Linked DNA regions of Homo sapiens: region 2 is linked to region 1. A link means that fine-mapping ties the variant in region 1 to the expression of a gene that starts in the linked region. Tissue or cell type: thyroid. Region 1 holds a variant in brackets; the other region holds the start of a gene. All regions are shown on one strand. Distances are from middle to middle. Region 1 holds the start of ADIPINT (adipocyte associated pyruvate carboxylase interacting lncRNA). Region 2 holds the start of COL15A1 (collagen type XV alpha 1 chain).

Region 1 (10,270 bases):
AGATTCAGGCACCTGCAGGGCCTTCAAACACAGGCAAATGCATGGGGTAACTTCTCTCACTTGGTTTCCGAAGGAGAAAAGGTCTACCCAGCATCACCGTCCACTTCCACACCTCTCCATTAGCGTAACATGTATCTACCAGACATAAGTCAAGCACCTAGTGCATACAGAGATCCAGCTAACCTGTGTCACAGGCCTCAGGGGGCCTGGATTGGGCCATTGGAAGGGCAGGAGAGCTCTGTATACAGTGAGACACTTTTTTTTTTTCTTTGAGACACAGCCTTGCTCTGTTGCCAGGCTGGAGTGCAGTGGCGCGATCTCAGCTTACTGCAACCTCTGCCTCCTGGGTTCAAGCGATTCCCTTGCCTCGGCCTCCCGAGTAGCTGGGACTATAGGCATGCACCATCACACCAGGCTCATTTTTTGTATTTTAGTAGAGACAGGGTTTCACCATGTTGGCCAGGATGGTCTCGATCTCCTGACCTCGTGATCAGCCCGCCTCGGCCTCCCAAAGTGCTGGGATTACAAGCAGTGAGACCCTTTTATTATTCCTCCTACGTGTAGTACTGAGACCCCAACATTTTCTCTACCAAATTCCCTTCCCTGAATCATGATGAGTTTTGCAGTATCCAAAGCTATACAACTGAGCTTTTAAAAGACTATTTATTTGCTAGTAGTTGAGGGTTGGAGCTGTGGAGTCAGACTGCTGGGTATGTGGTCTTGGGCACAAAGCTTAACATAGTGGCTCTCAAAGTGTGGTCCCTGATCCGGCAGTATCAGCATCCAATTTTCAGGCCCCACACCAAACCTATTGAATCAGAATCACGGGGTGGGACTCAGCATTTCATATTTTAACCAGCCCTTCAGGTGATTCTGATGCACCTTGGCTGTTAAAGAGCTTACCTGTTATCCAGATTTCATATCCTGCTTCTGCCATTTGCTACCTGTTACTTAAGATCTCTGGGTTTCAGTTTCCTCATCTATAAAATGGGAATGATCATGGTACTAGCTTCCACAAGGCTCTTGTTCCAATTAATAGAATGAGCCATGTAAACTACTTAGGATGTACTTATTCATCATTAATTACATATAAATGTGTTTATGTGTGTGTGTGTGTGTGTGTGTGTGTGTGTGTGTGTGTATGTGAATTTCCCTTGCCTTAGGTGTTTACGAAGATTCATGGTCATGTGTAATAGTTGTATAACACGTCTTAAAATTTTACGAAGAAACTTGTATATGACGGCCCTAATCATTTTCATAACAAGCAAGGTAGGTGTTAGGTATTATTATCTTCATTGTACACATGGAAAACAGGGGCCCAGAGCATAACATTTTCTCAGGGTCACAGTGAGACAGTTATGAGTCTAGAATATAAACCACTTCTGCCTTGAACATTTGTGTCTATTCATTACATCATGAGTTCTCAGAGTGCAGGCCTGCAATCTTGGTTGACACAGATAAAATTGTTTTAATTTAGGTACCTGTATTTGTCCACTATGGGAAAAAAGATATGGTTAATGGCGATGCTGTTAGTTAAATATAAAGTTCTTGGCACAACCCAGCTTGGCATGTGACTTACCGCTGCTTCTTGCAATTCCTCATTCCAAACAGGGAGGCTGTTTGGTGCAACAGGCACTGGAATGGAAAAGGTCAACCCAGCTCCAACTTCTGACTCCAACATTTCTTATCTGAGTGTGTGACCTTGAACAAGGTACTTTGCCTCTTAGAACTTCCTTTTCTCCTTTTGTAAAATGGGGTACTATCCCTCCCCCACCCAGCTCCCAGAACAGCCCTGGGTCTCAAGTTGAATGATGTGGAAGATGTGGAAGCACTTTGCAAATCATAAAGTACATGTACAATGATGGGATTGGAAGGAAGAGTTTGCTGAAGATGAATTCTGCTGGCCTCTGCCAGCTCTAAACGGCTCTGTGGTCTGGCAAGGCCAAGGCAATGTGCAGCTGGTGGGAGGTCGGTGGGGACTGGTGGAAAGCTAGTCAAGATGTGTGGCCTGACCCTTGCTGGGGAGTGGCCTGCCAGGACAGGGGGATGTCAGAGACCCTTCCAGGGAACCCCCAGTCATATGCCATCAGCTCGGGACAAGCCACTGCTGCCCTGGAGGCCCTCTGGAGTCAGACCCAAGAAGTCCACGCAAAGTGAAACAAGTTCTCGTCCTGGCTACCAGTTCCCAAGATGACACTGGGCAGGACCCTCACTTCTCTAGGCCTTTGTTTTACAAAACAAAGTGGCATGTGCCATCTCTCAAGAGCAAAGAAAAACAAAACAAAACAAAACAAAATCAATAAAAAATTAAAAATGGCATATCCTCAACTATTCCACCAACCCTTTTATTATTCCTCCTAAGTGTAGTACTTAGATCTCAACATTTTCTCTACTAAATTATCTTCCCTGAATAATGATGAGTTTTGCTGTGTTCAAAGCTAAATAACTGAGCTTTCAGAGGACTATTTGCTAGTAGCTGGGGGTTGGAGCTGTGGAGTCAGGCTGCTGGGTGTGTGAACTCGGGCACAGTGCTTAACCCCTTTGGCACTTAGTGTCTCCATCTGCAAAATAGGACTCATAAACGTACCCATCTTACAGGATCGAAGATCAGTGAGATGGTGTGTGAAGGGCTTCACCTTGCTTCTAGCAGCTAAGTTCAGTGGGAAGCTATCACTGTCACCAGCAACACCAGGGTACAGAGGGACCAGCTGGAGCTGATTTCAGAGAAAAGTCAAGACACCGGATACTTTTACGAGCCCGTGAGCCCTCACACAGGGGCTATATACTGTTTCTTTTCAGCTTTTGAAAGAACCGGGAATAGTCTGAGCACCCCAAGTCCAGGGACCCCAGCCTGGGAACCTCTGGCCCAGAGAATCATAAAGTTGCTTCCATCTCTGACATTCAAGGTCTCAGAACATTTCAGCTGTGCTGAGGGTCAGCCAAGCCTCTTAAAAGAAACCCGCGTGGTCAGCAGCAGCTGGGCCTGCAGTGAAGCCAAGGTAGACCACAGGAGGAGCTGCCGCAGCCCAGAGCCCCGCCTCCCAGGGCCAGGGCCCCTGCAGAAGAGTCGCACATCAGAGGAAAGCTCACAGCCTCCTGTTCAGTGCATCCGGGAACTAAATCTCCACGCCCCCTCCCACCTCTCTGATCTGAAAAAGGCCAGGAGGGAAGGAAATGGTTATTTCAAAGGCTGGACGATCCCCCTTTGCAGACAGGGTCAGAGTCTGAGTCTTGAGCTCTCCAAGGAACTACTGAAAACCAGAACTTTGTCTGCTTCCTTTTCTTCATTTCTCCTTTCCTTTCTTTGCAGTCCTGTTCTAAATGTAGATCTGTAATCCCGGCTACTCGGGAGACTGAGATGGGTGGATTGCTTGAGGCCAGAAGTTCAAGGCCAGCCTGGGCACCATAGCAAGATCCTTGACTCTAAAAAAAATTAAAAATAAAATTATGCAGGCATGGTGGCATGCACCTATAGTCCCAGCTACTAGAGAGGCTGAGGCAGAAGGATTGCTTGAGCCCAGGAGTTTGAGGCTGCAGTGAGCTATGATCACACCCCTGCACTCCAGCCTGGGTGACAATCCAACGTGATCATCATATAAATGATGATAAATAAATACTTATTTATTGATAAAAATAAATAAGTAAGTAAATAAGATCTTGGAGGCCATGATTCAGGCTGTCAAGGAACAGAAACCTAACCATCAACGGGAGGGAAAAACCTCAGGATCTCGGTGTTGTAGGAGTGATCTCGGGGTAAACCACACACTAGTGGAGTCTCCTACAGAAAAAGCCGATATGATGGGAATGATGCAGAATCCCTCACCTCTGTGGATCCTTCGTGCCCATTCTCTGTCTGGCTCCTCACACCAAGCCCTAGAGACATCCAAGGCAGAGCTTCCTATTCCCATTACACAGAGGAAGAAACTGAAAGCCAGGAAGAAGATGATAATATGAAAAACCATAGCTAACTTTCATTGAGCACTCACTAATTTGCCAGGTAAGGCACTAAGAACTTTGCATGCATTATCTCATTTAATCCACACAAGTGCCCTAATGAGGTAGGCATTATTGCTCTTCCCATTTTACAGATAAGGAAATTAAGGCAGATCTGCCAGATGTCCAAGCCCACACTCATAATCACTGGCTACACCTGCCCCTGCCCAAGAACCACACGGTGAGACAGTGGAAGGCTCAGGAGCCAAGCCCGGGTCTTCTAACTCCAGGTTGAGTGCTCTTTCCCTGCTGCCGTTCTGCTTCCTTGTGGTGAGTGGAAGGACGGCTATTCTAATAATCAGATCTATATAAAAAAGGAACAGGTTGTGTGGGAGGGATTGAGAACCCCATCACTGAGAGGCATCCTAGCCAAAGCGAGATGATCGCTTGGTGGAGTGCTATGGAGGTAATGGGGGTGGGGCTTAAGGCTCCTTCCAGACATGGGGAGGCAATGAAATCCATTATAGTTGCCAAGAAAACCTCCAGAAAGATGTCTAGGTCCCATCTTTTCTTTCTTCTCTCATGTCATTCATTCCTTCTCTTAATCAACAACTCATTGAGAGCCCACACTGTGCCAGATCCCATGCTATGTAACAAAGGACCAGACAGACATGGGCCCTACCATCCAGAACATATGCTTCAGTGACCTTTATCCCCAGCGAGCCTAAATAGGACTCCTCTGCCAACCAAGATATCCCATCTCTAGACCATGGCTCCTTCTGTTGACTTTCCACCAACTCCTCCTTGATGCTGAAACCAAAGCGGTGCAAATACCACCTTGGAACTCTTAACACGCTGTTGCTGGGAATGTGAATTAGCACAGCCACTATGGCAAACAAAATGGAGGTTTCTCAGAAAATTATAAATAGAACTACCCCCTGACCCAGCAATCCCACTACTGGGTATTTATCCAAAAGAAAGGAATTCAAGTGTACCAAAGGGACACCTGCACTCCCATGTTTCTTGCAGCACTATTCACAATAGCTAAGATATGAAATTAACCTAAGTGTCCATCAATAGG[T/A]GGATGAATAAAGAAAATGTGGTATGGATACACAATAAAATACTCTTCAGCCATACAAATGAATGAGATGTCATTCGCAGCAACAGGGATGGAACTGGAGGTCATTATGTTAAGTGAAAATGCCAGGCACAGAAAGACAGATACCGCGTGTTCTCACTCATACGTGGGAGCTAAAAACTTGATCTCATGGGCATAGAGAATAGAATAATTGATACCAGAGACTGGGAAGGGTGGGTAGGTGGGTGGGAGGAGGATAATGAAGAGAAGGTGATTAATGCGTACAAACATACAGTTAGATAGAAAAAATAAGTTCTAATGTTTGATAGCAGACTAGGATGACTATACTTAACAACAAACAATATTTTGTATCTTTCAAAGTAACTAAAAGAGAGGACTTGAAATGATACCAACACATAGAAATAAATGATAAATACTCAAGGTGACGGATACCTCAAATACCCTTACTTGACCATTACACATTCCATGCATAAAACACTTACATGTGCCTTATAAATGTGTTTAACATTACATATCAATAAAAGAAATAAAAATTCATCATAGTTTTAAAATTATAATTAGACTGACGGTTTAAAGAAAAACAAATTTGGAAGATTAAAATGGATTCAATGAACCTGGCCTAACATAATTAGCACAGTTGATCTTTTGTATGTGTATATGGAGTCCTTATTAAAACATTGACATATTCTACAAAGAATAACAAAAATAAAAGGTGATTTCAAGACTTTTGGGGAAAAAAATGCCACTTAGTCTAAGACGCCTTCTCTGGTATTCCTAGCAGAAGTGCTTCTCCTTCTGCCTGGCTCCGTGACCCCTGCAGGTGCCTTCCCTATCTCACAGGCAGTTGGGTTGATCTGCACTGTATTTCACGTAGACGTTGGGTGCAGGGGATGTTCTGCAGGACCACAAGCTCACGGACTGCAGGGACTGTGTCCAATTCTGGTATCCAAATGCCAGGCATCCCAGCACAGATAAGATGCTCATTCATTCATTCATTCATTCAACAAATATGTATTGAGCAGTTGTGAAGTGTCGGGCCCTGTTCGGCCACTGGGTTTCCAATAGCACACAAGGCAGGCAAAAAGCCTGCCCTGGTTTATATTCCAGTGGGAACTACTAGATGAACAAGCCAATGACTAAATGAATATGCATTGAATCCTGAAAACCCTTTTTGAGACCCTACACTTAGAAAAAGGTGCATTTTTGGACTGTTTGCATATCCACCGGTCAAATGTTTATCTACACTAAGTGAGCTCTTGAAGGAAGCCTACCTTCCTCTGTGGCATGAGTGTTTAAAAATTGCCGGAAAGGGATCGTGTCAGAATTAGTCTTCCCTGCTTTGGGAATCCTGAGCTATTGAGATGTTAGCCAAAGGCTTGAATAAAATAAAATAAACTAAGCTTTAGAGTCAGAGAAATAATTCAATTTCAGGAAACACCAGGCCCAGGGACAGTAATAACAAAAATAATCACAGCAAACATTTACACAGCACATACTATGTGCCAGACCCAGGAGAATCTCTGGGTTCCCAACAGACGACAAGGCTATGTCAGAAGGAAGGAGAGGCCATGAGGGGGTTGACCCTGACTAGCGCCATCCCCTGGGATCGGGCCGTTGTTCACTAGGGCTCTAACTGTCCCATGATCCACAGCAAGCTTTGAGGCCCAGTGCATTTGAATTTCCCAGGAATTCAATGGCAGAAAAGACAAAATGTCCCAAGCAAAAGGACATTTACCTCCCTAAAACAGAAAAACTGTGCTCAGGGAAGGAAATTCCTTGGAATAATGGAAGCATCTTTACTCCCTGAAAAGAAGGTTGGAATGCACATTTATTGAGCTTTTACGATATGCCAGGCACTGTGCTTGGATTTGGTTTACACTGTCATTTACTCACTGCTGGGTACTATTTTAATGTGGAGCTATAGCCAGGGATGAAATAGACACTGTCAGTCCCCAGCGCTGACATGCAGTCAGGATGTATCTCTCCTCCTCCCTCCCCTTCTTCTCCTCTTCCTTCGCTTCCTCCTCTCCCTCTCCCTCCTCTACCTTCTTCTCCTCTTCCTCTTCCTGATGTATTCCCCACTTCTCTCATCAACATGTACATGTATTCATGCCATAAACACCCACAGAGCATCCACTACATGCCAGGCACTGTGCCTGACATTGAGGGTGAGGAAGGGAGCAAGATAAACACCAAGGGGCCCATGGTTCATCAGCCCAGGTGCCCAGGCTGGAAACATGAACACCACCTGCAACTTCAGACTTCCTCAGCCCCTTCATGGTTGTTCAACGAGTCCTGCAATTAGACCCTTTCCCTCCATCTCCACTGCCAAAGCCTTAGCCCAGATCTTCACCCTCCCTCACTATGGTCACCATCCAGCTCCCTCAGCCTCCCTCTGGTGTTGCCTTCTCCAGCTCTTTCTCTGCAATGCAGCCAGAGGGACTTCTGTAGAACACATCTAGATCTGTTTGCTCCCTTACTCAGAGCCTTACGTGGCTACCCTCAGGAGAAAGTCCAAGCTCCCTGACCAGGTATTCAAGGCCCATCCTGACCCCTCTTTTTTTTTTCTGTCTCTCTTTTGGGGACTGAATTTTGCTCTTGTTACCCAGGATGGAGAGCAATGGCGCAATCTCAGCTCACTGCAACCTCTGCCTCCTGGGTTCAGGCGATTCTTCTGCCTCAGCCTCCTGAGTAGCTAGGATTATAGGTGCCTGCCACCACACCCAGCTAATTTTTGTATTATTAGTAGAAACGGGGTTTCACCATGTTGGCCAGGCTGGTCTCAAACTCCCGATCTCAGGTGATCCACCCACCTCGGCCTCCCAAAGTGCTGGGATTACAGGCTTTAGTCACCATGCCTGGCCCATCCTGACCCCTCTTGCTCCAGTAGGGTTGGACTGGCAGGAGATGAGCTATGGATGGTGAAGCAGTTGGTTCCCAACCAGCCACTGACTCCTTATCAGCGAGGTACACATGCACACAGACCCCCGTACCCACCCAGAGACACACGGGCACAAACACACACACTCAGGTGCACCCTGGGGTATAAACAAGCAAGTCCATTTATGCTGACACACATGCATGTAGACATAGCAGCCAGATTACCAAACCGAAACACAAGATGACCAGTTACATTTGAATTTCAGATGAATAACATGTTTTTAGTATAATTATGTTCCAAATGCTGCATGGATAAATTTATACTAAAAAATAATTTGATGCTCATCTGAAGTTCAGATTAAATTGAGCATCCTGTATTTTATCTAGTGACTCTACAAACAGAGAACAGCTAACACAAGCACCAACCCTACACATACATATTACACAGCTTACACACTTATACATGTTACATACTTATACTACTTACACGGGCAATTCACGTGTGAACGTGCGCCTCACACTGTCGTGTATTCTAGACTAATGGGCATCTCACTGCCCACGACCAAACCGGAACATTGGCCAGCTGCAGAAAGCTCTTCAGGGAAACATTTATTCCGTGAATAAATGCCTAATTAACAGGAATTCCTGGACATCCAGCTCCTAGAATGTTGTGTGCCCAAAGTAATCCCTGCGGAAACTGGGCTTTCACTAAGCACAATGCCCTGAGTGGATGGCAGCAGGGAGAAGGGTCTATGGGGCTGAGCCTCTCATTCCCTCCTGTTCTTTTCACAGATTTCCAGAGCAGAGTTCAGGGCCTATAAACTCCCTTTCCAAATAAGACCTCCTTGTCCCAGCTGGAAGCCTGCCTAGGATCATGAGAAAGTCACAGAATTTAAAGCCAGACAGAAATATGTTCACAAATTCGACTTCCACATATCTGCGCTGTGTCCTTGAGCAAGTCACTTGCCCTCTCTGTAGAATGGAAATGTTCCACTAATAAACCAACTCCTTTGGGTTACAAGTGTTACTAAATAAGATAATGTATGTGGACGACGTTTTTCAGAGTTTTGGATAAAAACTAGCTCCTAGGGTTGTAAGTGACGCACAGAAGAGGAGAATGTGATAAAACTTTGGGACAACTAAAATCAGGCATTAGTGTCAATTAAGTACTGCAAAGTCACATCCTAAGTAAATTAGGTTCTAAACTCAGCACATACAGGGAAAATGCTTATGTCCAAAACACTCTGAAAGCCTTTTAGGATTGTGTACACAGCGTTGTACAATGGCAAACAAGAATACTTACGCACACTGGAAATTCAGGACCTCTGACATAGACCGAAGGGAGAAACAAAAGGAACTTCTTCTATGCAAATGTCTGGGCATATTCTGATTTTAAAATGGCCAGCAAATCCCTAGTGATTAATGGCAAGAGTGGAGAATACTGAAACTTCTTCTTGCCTGCAGGGTTTCCTCTATTATTTTAAAACACTGAGCCTCTATGTAGTCAACATTAATGCTTGTTCCTCAGTTTTTCTGGTTATTTTCCACCTGAGCACACAATAGGATTGTATGTCCCTTCCTTTGGCCTGTGAAATGGGAAGTGGTGTGTTACCACCAGGCAGAAGCATTCTAGTGCTGCTAAGAGATTCTTCATCTTCTCCTCCCCCTGCTGCAGTGACCCACAGCATTCCAGGTGGTGAACCTTGAGTATCTAAGACAGGTCAGTGTGAACGATGACCCCACAAACCTACAATGAATGTGGAGCATGAGTGAGAAGTGAGCCTTTGCTATTTTAAGCCATGCATATTTAAGAGTTGTTTATTACTGAAGCAAAATCCAGCCTATCCTGACTAATACACTTTAACATTTTAGTACATATTAATAGATTTGTTTGTTGTTGTGAAGCTTTTTTTTTTTTTTTTAAAGACAGAGTCTAGCTCTGTCACCCAGGCTGGAGGGCAGTGGCACAATCACAGCTCACTATAGCCTTGACCTCCTAGGCCCAAGTGATCCTCCCACCTCAGCCTCCTGAGTAGCTGGGACCACAGGCATGTGCCACCATGCTCAGCTAATTTTGTTTGTTTGTTTGTTTGTTTGTAGAGAAGGAGGTCTCACTATGTTGCCTAGGTTGGCCTCAAACTCCTGAGCTCAACGGACCCTCCTGCCTCAGCTTCCCAAAGAGCTGGGAGTGAGCCATATCGCCCATCCAGAGGGGAGGAAATCCTAAAATTACCTTGTGATAAATGCTTGAGGTGTTGGATACGCCATTTACCCTGATGTGATTATTAGGCATTGCATGCCTATATCAAAGTTTCTCATTGAACCCATAAATATATATATATACCTGATATACCCATA
Region 2 (10,270 bases), 29 kb before region 1:
AAGAATCAGACATGAAAGAATAGATTCTGCATTTAAAAAGTTCAAAATCGAGTAAAACAGAACTTCAGAATTTTGGGATACACACTTAGATAGTAAAGCTATTTTTAAAAAGCAAGAAAGGGATGACTGTTAATGTCAAGGTAATGGTTACCTCAGAGAGAAAGAAGGGAAAATAAAACCACAGCAAAGGGGTTTAGGAGACCTTCTGGGGATTATCCTATATCTTCATCTGGATTACATGTTTGCTCTGTGATACAAGATTGTACTGTACCTTTAGCATGCACTTTTCTGAATGGATGTTGTATTTCACAATAAAACAGTTTAAACATAAGCAAATAATTTGCAATCATCAACACTTTATTAGCAAGAGCAAATTACTTGTGACACCACCATCCCTACCTGGACAATAGCCCCCTTATCTTCTAAAATATTGGGTATTCCAATGACCCTGAAACTTTACCAGGAAAAGGAAGGATTGGTGTTGTCCTCCAGCTCAACCCTGACCATTGGAGGTACAAGAGGCCATGTGGGTGACACCCACTGACAAGTGTCTCTTTTTTTTTTTTTTTTTTTTTGAGACAGAGTCTCCCTCTGTTGCCAGGCTGGAGTGCAGTGGCGCGATCTTGGCTCACTGCAACCTCCGCCTCCCAGGTTCAAGCTATTCTCCTGCCTCAGCCTCCCAAGTAGCTGGGACTACAGGCGCCCGCCACCATGCCTGGCTAATTTTTTGTATTTTTAGTAGAGACAGGGTTTCACCGTGTTAGCTAGGATGGTCTCAATCTCCTGACCTAATGATCTGCCCGCCCCAGCCTCCCAAAGTGCTGGGATTACAGGTGTGAGCCACCGCGCCCGGCCGACAAGTGTGTCTTTAAACAGGATGGTGTAGAAGGATGGGATTGGCTGCACACAGGACATTCTGCATGGTAGATGAGAAGACTTCAGGAAAAATGGCATTACAGTTGTCTGTGGCCCTTTCTTTCTTCCTGTGAACTATGACCCCTTTGGGGCAGCTCTGTGCCCAAATCCTTTCTGTACCCAGCCAGCATGAGGGCCAGCACAGAATGGGTTTGTTGAACTAAACTATGTGAAATAATCAAACCTCAAACTAGAAAAATATTATTTTGTTTTGTTTCCCAACATTTTAAATTAGGACTACAGAGATGAGTGACTCTTGCCTCTCCACTTCGTAGATGGGAAAACAGGCTCAGAGTGGGAAAAGCAACTCATCTAAGTTCATGGAGGAAGTCAGTGAGTGGAACCCAGGTTTTCCAATACCTGAACTTGTGCTGTTTTAGGGCGTGCAGGATATCAGGAAGTTTACAAAGACCCACTTTTTAACAGATCAACTACCTGCAAAAAACCCATATGCATGTGTTCTACCCCTACCTGAGGAGCCCTGTCCTGGGCCCACAATGGCATTCAGGGATAGTAGGGAGAGTCGATCCAGAGACCTGGAGGTGCAGGCAGAACTCTGGACCCATTTTCTGAGAGAATCAATGCCCTAAGAGGCCAGCAGCTTTTAAGTTGTGAGCTGTGTGCCAGCTCTGTACCAGGCTGGCTAGGAACCCCACCTTGAAGCCCCACCAGATCTGGGGCCTAGATGCTCTGGGAAAATACATTCTTTTATTTAAGAAGCAGCTTTATTGAGGCATAGCTTACATTCCATAAAATTCACCCATTTTAAATGTATAGTTAGATTATTTTAGTAAATTTATAGAGTTGCACAACTACCACCACAATCCAGTTTTAGAACACTCCCCAAAAAGTTTCCTCATGCCCCTTTGCAGTCAATCTCTGCTTCTGTTTTCTGTCTCTGTGGTTCTGCCTTTACAGAAATCTCATATATAGGGACTCTTACAATGTATTGCTTTTTAATGTCTGGCTTCTTTTACTTAGCTTAATGGTATTAAGGTTTATCCATGTTGTTGTAGCATTGATCAATACTTCATTCCTTTTTATTGCTGAGTAGTATTCCATTAAATGGATACACCTCATTTGTTTATCTATTCACCAGCTAATGGTGAATTTAACTTTATTTCCAGTTTTGGTCATTATAAATAATGCTGCTATGAACATACATATGAGTTTTTGGGTGGCCATATGCTTTCCTTTCCCTTAAGTAGATACTTAGGAGTGGAAGTTCTAGATTGTAGGGTAAGTATATATTTAACATTTTAAGAAACTGCCAAATCGTTGGGAACATGTATTTCCGCTCATAACAGCCCACTTACAAACATGCTTTCAGAAGCCACCCCACTTAAGCATACAGCATAGTGGTTACAAGTACAGATTCTGGAGTCAGACCCTCTGGGCTCAAATTGTGCTTATATTACTGAAGGCTACATGCCCTTGGGCAAAAGACTGTGCCTCAGTTTCCTCATCTGTAAAAGGGGATAAGACATGGGGTTGTTGTGATGATTGACTGAGCTCATTCATGGCAGGGCACTTAAAACACTGCTGGTTCATAGTGCTATGAAGTCTTGGCAATTGTTTTTTATAGCCAGTTGGGCAGTGGTCCTATGGAAGGAACAGCACCAGCCCAGAAGTTCACAGACGTGAGAGGGCTATTATGGATCTACCCAGTTACAGTCATGCGGCCTTGAGGAAGTCACATCCCCTCTGTAAGACAGAGCCCAATTTACTTCTCAGCACTGCTGGGTGGTGATTCCAGGGACGTGGTGAAGGTGACATTGTGCTTTGAAGACTGCACAATGCCATGCAATGGACTCATGTTACAATTGTGACATTCAGATTGTGGGGCTCATTGGAGACCATGGAACCCCTAAAGCCTTCTCCATCCGTGAAGCTCTTCTAACTACACACTAGGATGGTTAAGAGCAAGGACTCTGGAGTCAGACTGTCTGGTTCAAATCCCACCCCAGCCACTTAGAAGTCTTGTGACTTTGGACCTCTGTTTCTTCATCTGAAAAACAGAGATAGTAACTGTTCTCAGTCCTCACCTCCTGGAGTGGTTGTAAGGATTGGATGAATGAAATATGAACATGTTCACACCTCCACCTGGATATACAAAGTGTTTTATAAGTATTAGGGATATTAAATTGCATTACAAATGCAGTTTGCAGGAGGATAGTTTACATTTTTAGGAATCGTTTCACATCCCCAAAGGGGCACTGAAAACCCATCAGTTGCAAATGGCCCTCCTTAGACCGTTCTCAGCTCCTGAAGGTTTGCTGGCCCTCCCTTTTTACATTATAAATGGGAATAGGGCTTCCTTTGTGTTAGAAACAACAGCCCTGACACTGAGGGATCCCAGAGACACACACAGGAGGAGAAAGAAACACCAAAGTTCCTATCCCCAGATCCATCTTCCTTTTGGGAAACTGGAAGTTGCAGCAAAGTTCACAAAAGACCATGGAACCCAAAGTTGGCCTCTGCCACTGAGTTGGCAGGGCCCTATATCATATGCAAAATTGCAACTTTCTGACATGAGCCATGGGGCTGAGAAGCTAAAACTATACTCCAGCTGCCCTTTGATCTGCAATAAATGCCAGGCTGGACACTCTGGCAGGAAAAGCTATCATCGGATTTGGGTCTTGTTGCCCAGGAGACAATGGGCTGTCTTGGGCTTCTTCAGGCAAACAAAGAGTTAACCAAGGCCACCTTCTCAATCCCGTTTCCTTTGGGCCGACTAGAGGTTGTTTCCTAGACTTTCTGTTCCCTTATTCAATTGAAGATGTGTACTAATCCCCCAAATTCAAAGGGGAGGGGGTCAGAAGCTATAGAAAGCATGGCTCTTCTGCAAAACTGCATGGAGAAAGAGCTGAGCAAGGGCAAGAGCCTACAGACCTGGATTCAAGTCCTGGCTTTTGGACTGGCCACTTTCTAAGCTTCTCTCAACCTCAATGTTATAAAAATACCTGCATTGCGATGGGATTAATAGAAGCCCAAACCTCAGCACCGTGCAATATACCCTTGTAAAAAACCACACATGACCACTCCCTGAATCTAAAATAAAAATAAAAATACTTGCATTGCTTTCCAACACATAGTTACTGCAAGAATCAAGCAGTAATTTCTATCACTTATTTTGTGCCTAGTATATACTGGAATCATGGGAAGCACATTATTTCTAATTTCTCTAATATTCACAACATTTCTAGGAAGGTAAAATGGTCTAATTAATCGCCTTTTTCAGATGGGGAAACTGAGGCACAGAGCGATGAAATCCATTGCCCAAGATCACTCAGCCAGCCACAGTTCAAACCCAGGCAGTCTGACCTTAACCGAGGCCCATTTTAACTTAGGTCTACTTTAACTTATATCTTACTATTCAGCCAACCGCCTGAGTTCTGCTGGAGAAACTGAGGCCCGGGGAACGGAAGGGATCAGATCTCTGGCTTCCAGGCCACAGCTCTTTCCACCACCGGTGGAGCCACTGCCCATGATAGACGTGACCGCTTAGGTAACTCAGAGCTGGGTTAAGCAACCGAGCAATTCAGTTCCGTTATTTCTTGAGCAGCAAAAGCCCCAGATGTCCCTCCCGGTGTTCATGCTTCGCACCTGTGTGCGGAGAGGCACCAGACCTGCCCTTACCAGAAGCCAGCCAGCACGCACAACCTAAGCTGCTGGCGCTGGGTGCGCTGAGGCTGTTGGCGCTGGCGCTGGCGCTGTTTCTGAAGTCCCTCTCTGCCTAAGATTGGAGGCTCCGCACCCAGCTCAGACATCTCGGGTGCCCAGACAACGCTCCAACCGCCCCAGCTGCCCAGGGATCCCATTCACAGCTATAACCCCTGCACTGCCAGGAGGTAGCCGCCCGCGGGACCGCCAGTGCGCACTGAGTGGCAAGACTCCCTTTTATGTCCAGGAATGAGGCACGCATCGCAGCCGCGTCCGCCGCCAAAACCGACTTCCCCCACGGGCGCGGAGGCAGCCGGTGCCACCCTCCGACCGGGTTGCTTACCTGTCGCACCGCGGGTCTGGGTGACAGCAGGGAGGGGCGTGGAGACCGAGAGCAGCATCAGCAGACACCAGCACTGCCCGTTGTTCCTCCTGCAAGATGTGCCCGAGGGAGAAAAGGTGAGGCGGGCAAGAGTATTGGAGGGGCCCGGGACGCGAGGAAGCAGAGAAGCGGGTCTTACCTTGGTGCCATCTCGCGGGTCTGCGGAGCCCCGGAAGGCGCGCGGCTAGTCGAGCAGAGCGTTGGAGCTTAGCGGAGGACGAAGGGTCGCTGAGCGCTGGCCGCCGCGCTCGCCCTTCCTGCAGGGAACAAAGGCGGCGCTCGGCAGCGGCGGCGGCGGGCAGAATCCCGGCTCCCGGCCCGCGCCCCGAGTCACCCGCGCTCTGAAACCCGACTCCGCCGCGCCCTGCGCTCCCCCGCGCGCTGCGCACTCACGCCCGGGGGATACCGGCCGCCCCGGCCGCCTCCCCACGCCCCTTTCCCCCTCGACGGACGTGCGCTCGCCTCTGCTGCCTCCACCCGCGGCTGCCTTATGTAACCTGCGAGGAAAGCCCCGCGCCCGCGTTCGTTGGGGCAAGCGGGATGGGCTCCCTCCCGCCCTTAAGTCTGTCCTGTCGGGGCTGACCCGCAAGAAAGCACTCTTTCACAGCCGCTGAGGGAATCCTCTCCACAGCCCAGGAAGGCTGGAATCAGTGATTTCCTTATATGATGGACAAGGAGACTGAGGCTCAGAGAGGTGGAGCGTATGTCCCAAAGTCCCAAGCTGCACTGAGCTCCTAGATGCTGTGACCCACCCTGCACGCCTGACACATGGACCGACTTGAATGCCCAGGAGTGGACCTGCCTGGGGGCCATAAGGGATACATACAACTAAATGCAGCAGAGATAATCCTAATAAAAGTTTTTAATGTACTGGATTCCAGGGCTTTCCTCCCTATGTATACCTTGCCTGCCCCCTTCATCAGAATGTAAGCTCCAGGAGGGCTTATCTGTGCTTTGTTCCCTGCCTAAAACAGCTCAGGTAGTAGGAGATGCCAATAAACGCTGGATGAATGAAGGAGCACAGTCTTGGGTGAGGCATCACACCAGGCCCTGTGATGAGATGTGGGGGTCATGAACCAGGCTCTGCCTCCGAAAGCCCTCAGTGGGAGTGAGGCGGTTCAGGGCAGACTAACCCATCTGTGCAGAGCTTATCGCAGGGCACTGGGTAAACCCTCAATGGTCGCTTTTTATTAAGATTACCACCCGGCACATAGTGTGAGATCTTGGAGTGAGAAGAGGCACCGCTGAAGTTGGCTGAGACCTGGACAGCTCTGAAGCCAGGTAAACACTAGAAACCTCTCTTCCTGAAGCACCAAGTAGCCACAGTGGGCCGTGGCTCTGTGGTCAGTTCCTGTGTTTGATTCAGTTCCACTCTAGAGGATGGGTCACCTCTTGCCAAGTGAGTTAGCCTTGCAGAGGAGATGGCATGGGAATGGATATAAGCAACTAATGCTTACTTGGTGTGGATTATGTCCCAAGCCCTCTGCTAAATGCTTTAGCTGTGTTATCTCATTTAATACCCACAACAGCCATGGAAAGGTGATACTGTCATGATCCCCATTTCATAGATAAGAAAGCTGAGGTTCAAAACATTCCAAGGCTAATGAATGGCAGATGCAACACCCATGCTCCTCCCCACTCAGCCATGCTGCCTGCCAGTAAGCAAGAAGATTAGACTCACTCTCCACCCTCAAGAGCAAAATCGCAGTGGAGACACAGAGCACTCGGATATGAAAGGGTTCATGCCAGCCTGGGCGGTGAGGGCTCAGAGGAGGGATGGTTGGCCTGGAGATCAGGAGTCTGGGTTCCAGTCCAATGCTGGCCCTGGCTGCAGGGTGAAGTTGGGCAAATCTTGCCCTTGGTCTGATTTTTTATTTCTCCACCTGGATAATGGACACAACTACCTTGAATTGAATGGTGGCTGTGAGTCCCTTGATGGGACCACCTACTGGTACACCACAGTGCTCTCTGTCCATTGGATTTTGGCTTCTATTATTAGAGGTTGTGGATATTCTCATCGGGGCTGCGGCCTGTGGAGGGGGACAACTGGCAAGACAGAGGGGGGACCCTAGATCAACCTCTTAAGGGATTGAGGCTCCAGTAGCCAAAGCAGCTCGAGAACCAGGTTGGCCTCATGTGGAGCTAACACATAAGGCGAACTGCATCCCGACAAAATTGTCCACTTGAGGCCTCTTTCCTAATCTGTTCACATTCCCTGTGAATGTAAATTCTCTCCCACTTGCAGCCACTCTGTGATGGGCCTAACCTTATTTTATTTTGATTCACTAACCATAGGGAATTTGCTTTCATAATTCTATATTTCTCTATTGTTTGTAAAGTACCACATTAACTAGGAATATAATTGACTTTCTTAGAACTATATTTCTATACTGCTTAGAAAAACCACATCAGTTATGGCTACATAGTAGATCTAGGGTTCTGTTTGACAGTTTTAAAACCAGAGATTGTGAACTGGCAGCCATAGGCTCAATTTTGTTTCATTTTTGATTTTGGTTTTTGTTTTTGTTTGAGATGGAGTGTCGCTCTGTCACCCAGGATGGAGTGCCGCTCTGTCACCCAGGATGGAGTGCAATGGTGGCTCACTGCAACTTCCGCCTCCCGGGTTCAAGTGATTCTCCTCTTCAGCCTTCCAAGTAGCTGGGACTATAGGCGCCCATCACCACACTCGGCTAATTTTTGTATTTTTAGTAGAGACGGGGTTTCACCATGTTGGCCAGGCTGGTCTCAAACTCCTGACCTCAAGTTGATCCACCCATCTCAGCCTTCTAAAGTGCTGGGATTAAAGGCATAAGCCACCATGCCCAGCCTTCAATTTTGCCCATAGATATGTTTTATCTGGTCTGCTGGGTGTCAACCTCCAAATTAAATTGGCTAGCAATATTTGATAATTAGAGAATTGCACAGTAAAATTGAGACTTCTGGATTCTTTTTGAAATTTTGGAAAACCTGGCGACATAAGGCCTGCATTCTCTGTGCCAACAATTGATTGGCATTGAATAGGGGCTGCTGCCTTCAGCTAAGGCAGTACTGTCCAGTTTGCCGTAGTTCCCACCACCCCATATTGTCCCCAAAACCAAAGCTAAGAATCAATTGCCCCTATCACAGTTGCACTCTGCCTTTGCATATAAGAAAAAATGGAATAGGTTGAATGCTCATGTTCCTGTTAAAAATGGGTAAACAGAAGATATATGGGGAGAAGAACATGTTTAAAGAAAGATGGGGAAAAACATATTTCTACTTGTTTAATATACAAATAAAGTGTGTACATTGAAAAAAATAAAAATGAAGGTGCCATTATGAAACAAACCTGGCCTCCTCAGTTACATATATAACATGAAGGGTGAAGACTTGATTGTGATCCAATTTATCAGTCCAAGATACATATGCATAAGGCAACAGATTCCTTTCTACTCTTGCAGGGAAGTCCTATGTGCACATTTCATATTTTGTTGGTTCTCTGTAACTGATGATACCCAATTCACTGGAATCTAAAAATGAAGTTTCCCAAAGCACACTTCTCATCTACAAATGACTGGAAATAGACTCGTGTTAAGGTTGTTGATTTTGCACCTATTTCTCCTGGGAAGCCAGACCATGTTCATATTCAAGAAGGGCTCTCAGTTTGCAGCTTGTCCCTGAACTCAGGCAGATGAAGAACAGGGAGGGTCTCAGGCCTGGGAGCTGAAGTGGGGGCCAAATGGTCCCAGCTGTGGGTGTGGGAGGGATGGGGCAGGAAGCCAAGCAAGACATTTTACCTCCTGCCAGACAGTGTTTTTAGGGCTTAAGTGATTTCCTTCCATTCAATGTTAAGTTGTAGAAATAGCCAAGAGGAAGCTTCGTGTCATACCCAAGCTGATCTAAATTGTTTACCACCGTTCAGTGTAATCTGTGAGATTGGGATGTGTGAAGACTGGGGATCTTATGTCCCAACTCTTACAGAACTGGACTAAATTAATAGGCTGTTCCATTTTCCCATAATCTACCCAATGTCCCTGATAACTCAATATCCAAAAGCATTCTCCATACTGTCTCAAGCAGCTGGAAGGGGCACAAAAATCTGTGGAAATCATCTAAAACTTTGGTTTCTGAAGAAGTTACCAAGAATATAGTGCATGTCATTCTAGACCTCAGTTTATTCACTACATGGGTACAATGCCTCCCTTGTGGAGTTGTGATGAGAACGTCTACAGGAGGTAGTTAGAGCTTGCATATCATCTGATTTAATGTGCAGAAAAAGTGCAATAGATTTAACTAGCTAACTAGAATAGAATTTACTAGAATAACTAAAGAGATAGCTGCCTTTGGGATAACCAAGAGAAAATAATGACTGTTTAAGCCCACAACTACCTTCCAAGGAGGACTCATTTGTTCTGCTGAGCATCTTGATGTGTTTGGATATGCAAAGAGGGGCCACAGGCTGAGACAAGAGTCATTGGTTCAACATAAGAGAAAATGATGGATTTGAAAATCTGACAATCCAAGAGGAAAAGAAAAAGGAGGGAGAATGTATCAGACACCTTTTATGTGCCACTGCAACATCCTGTCCAGATCCCCTCCATCTTGATCATTTATGTGCAGGGTGGCTGTCTTCCAACTGCCAGCACCTGCATCCCTTCACCTGAGCGCTTTCTCTGGCCCCTGGAGCCTGCTCTGCCCACAAGCACAGAAGACCAGAAGTGTTGGGAAATTAATGGAGCAACCCCTTCCCCAAGCAGCTCTCAATCAGTGATGGTCAGGAGCTGGTGGATGAGAATCTCAGCCCCCTTACCCAGCTGGTGGGAACACCTAGGCAGGCACACATTCTATACTTCTATCCAGAGTTTCCACAGGACTGAGCTCCGGTTTCCCACAGGGGTATTGTGCACTCACTCTTTATTGGCCACCTCATTTCCCCACTCCCCTTCCAGTGCTTCTTAAGAAAACTGACCAAGTGAACTGCTGGCAGTGGAATCCTTGCCTCTGAGTCTTTTGCTGCGGGAATCCAAATTAAGATAGCTGCTTGAAATTCTTTTAGTCTCACCCGTCTCCAGGGTCTCTGGCCACTTGTTCTAACAGCAGTCCCCTTTGTGGAGACCAACTCTACCTGGACTCTCACCAACTTCAGGCAGATACAACTCACAGCCCCTGGCCTCATGTCCACATTGATCACCTTTCACTTCCACCCCAGGGCTTCCCTGTTGATGCTAAGGCATGACATCCTCAGCACTATCCTTAGTGCCTGCAATGAGCAACCTGGAAGTACAGTGCAAATAACACCCTGTGGGGCAAAATTTCAGCCAATGGAAGCCA

What was found.
Region 2: it holds the start of COL15A1, and the variant in region 1 is fine-mapped to the expression of COL15A1 in thyroid (GTEx, PIP 0.95).

Annotation. Positions count from the first base shown.
Region 1 is chr9:98,909,600-98,919,869 of GRCh38, reverse strand. It overlaps ADIPINT (adipocyte associated pyruvate carboxylase interacting lncRNA), which reads right to left and starts at 8,666. Exons shown (of 2, transcript NR_176918.1): 1 at 8,400-8,666. The variant T/A (reference allele first, on the strand shown) is at 5,015.
Region 2 is chr9:98,938,902-98,949,171 of GRCh38, reverse strand. COL15A1 (collagen type XV alpha 1 chain) reads right to left here and starts at 5,265. Exons shown (of 42, transcript NM_001855.5): 1 at 5,100-5,265; 2 at 4,922-5,010. The coding sequence starts at 5,110. It overlaps COL15A1-AS1 (COL15A1 antisense RNA 1), which reads left to right and starts at 4,520. Exons shown (of 1, transcript NR_198999.1): 1 at 4,520-8,287.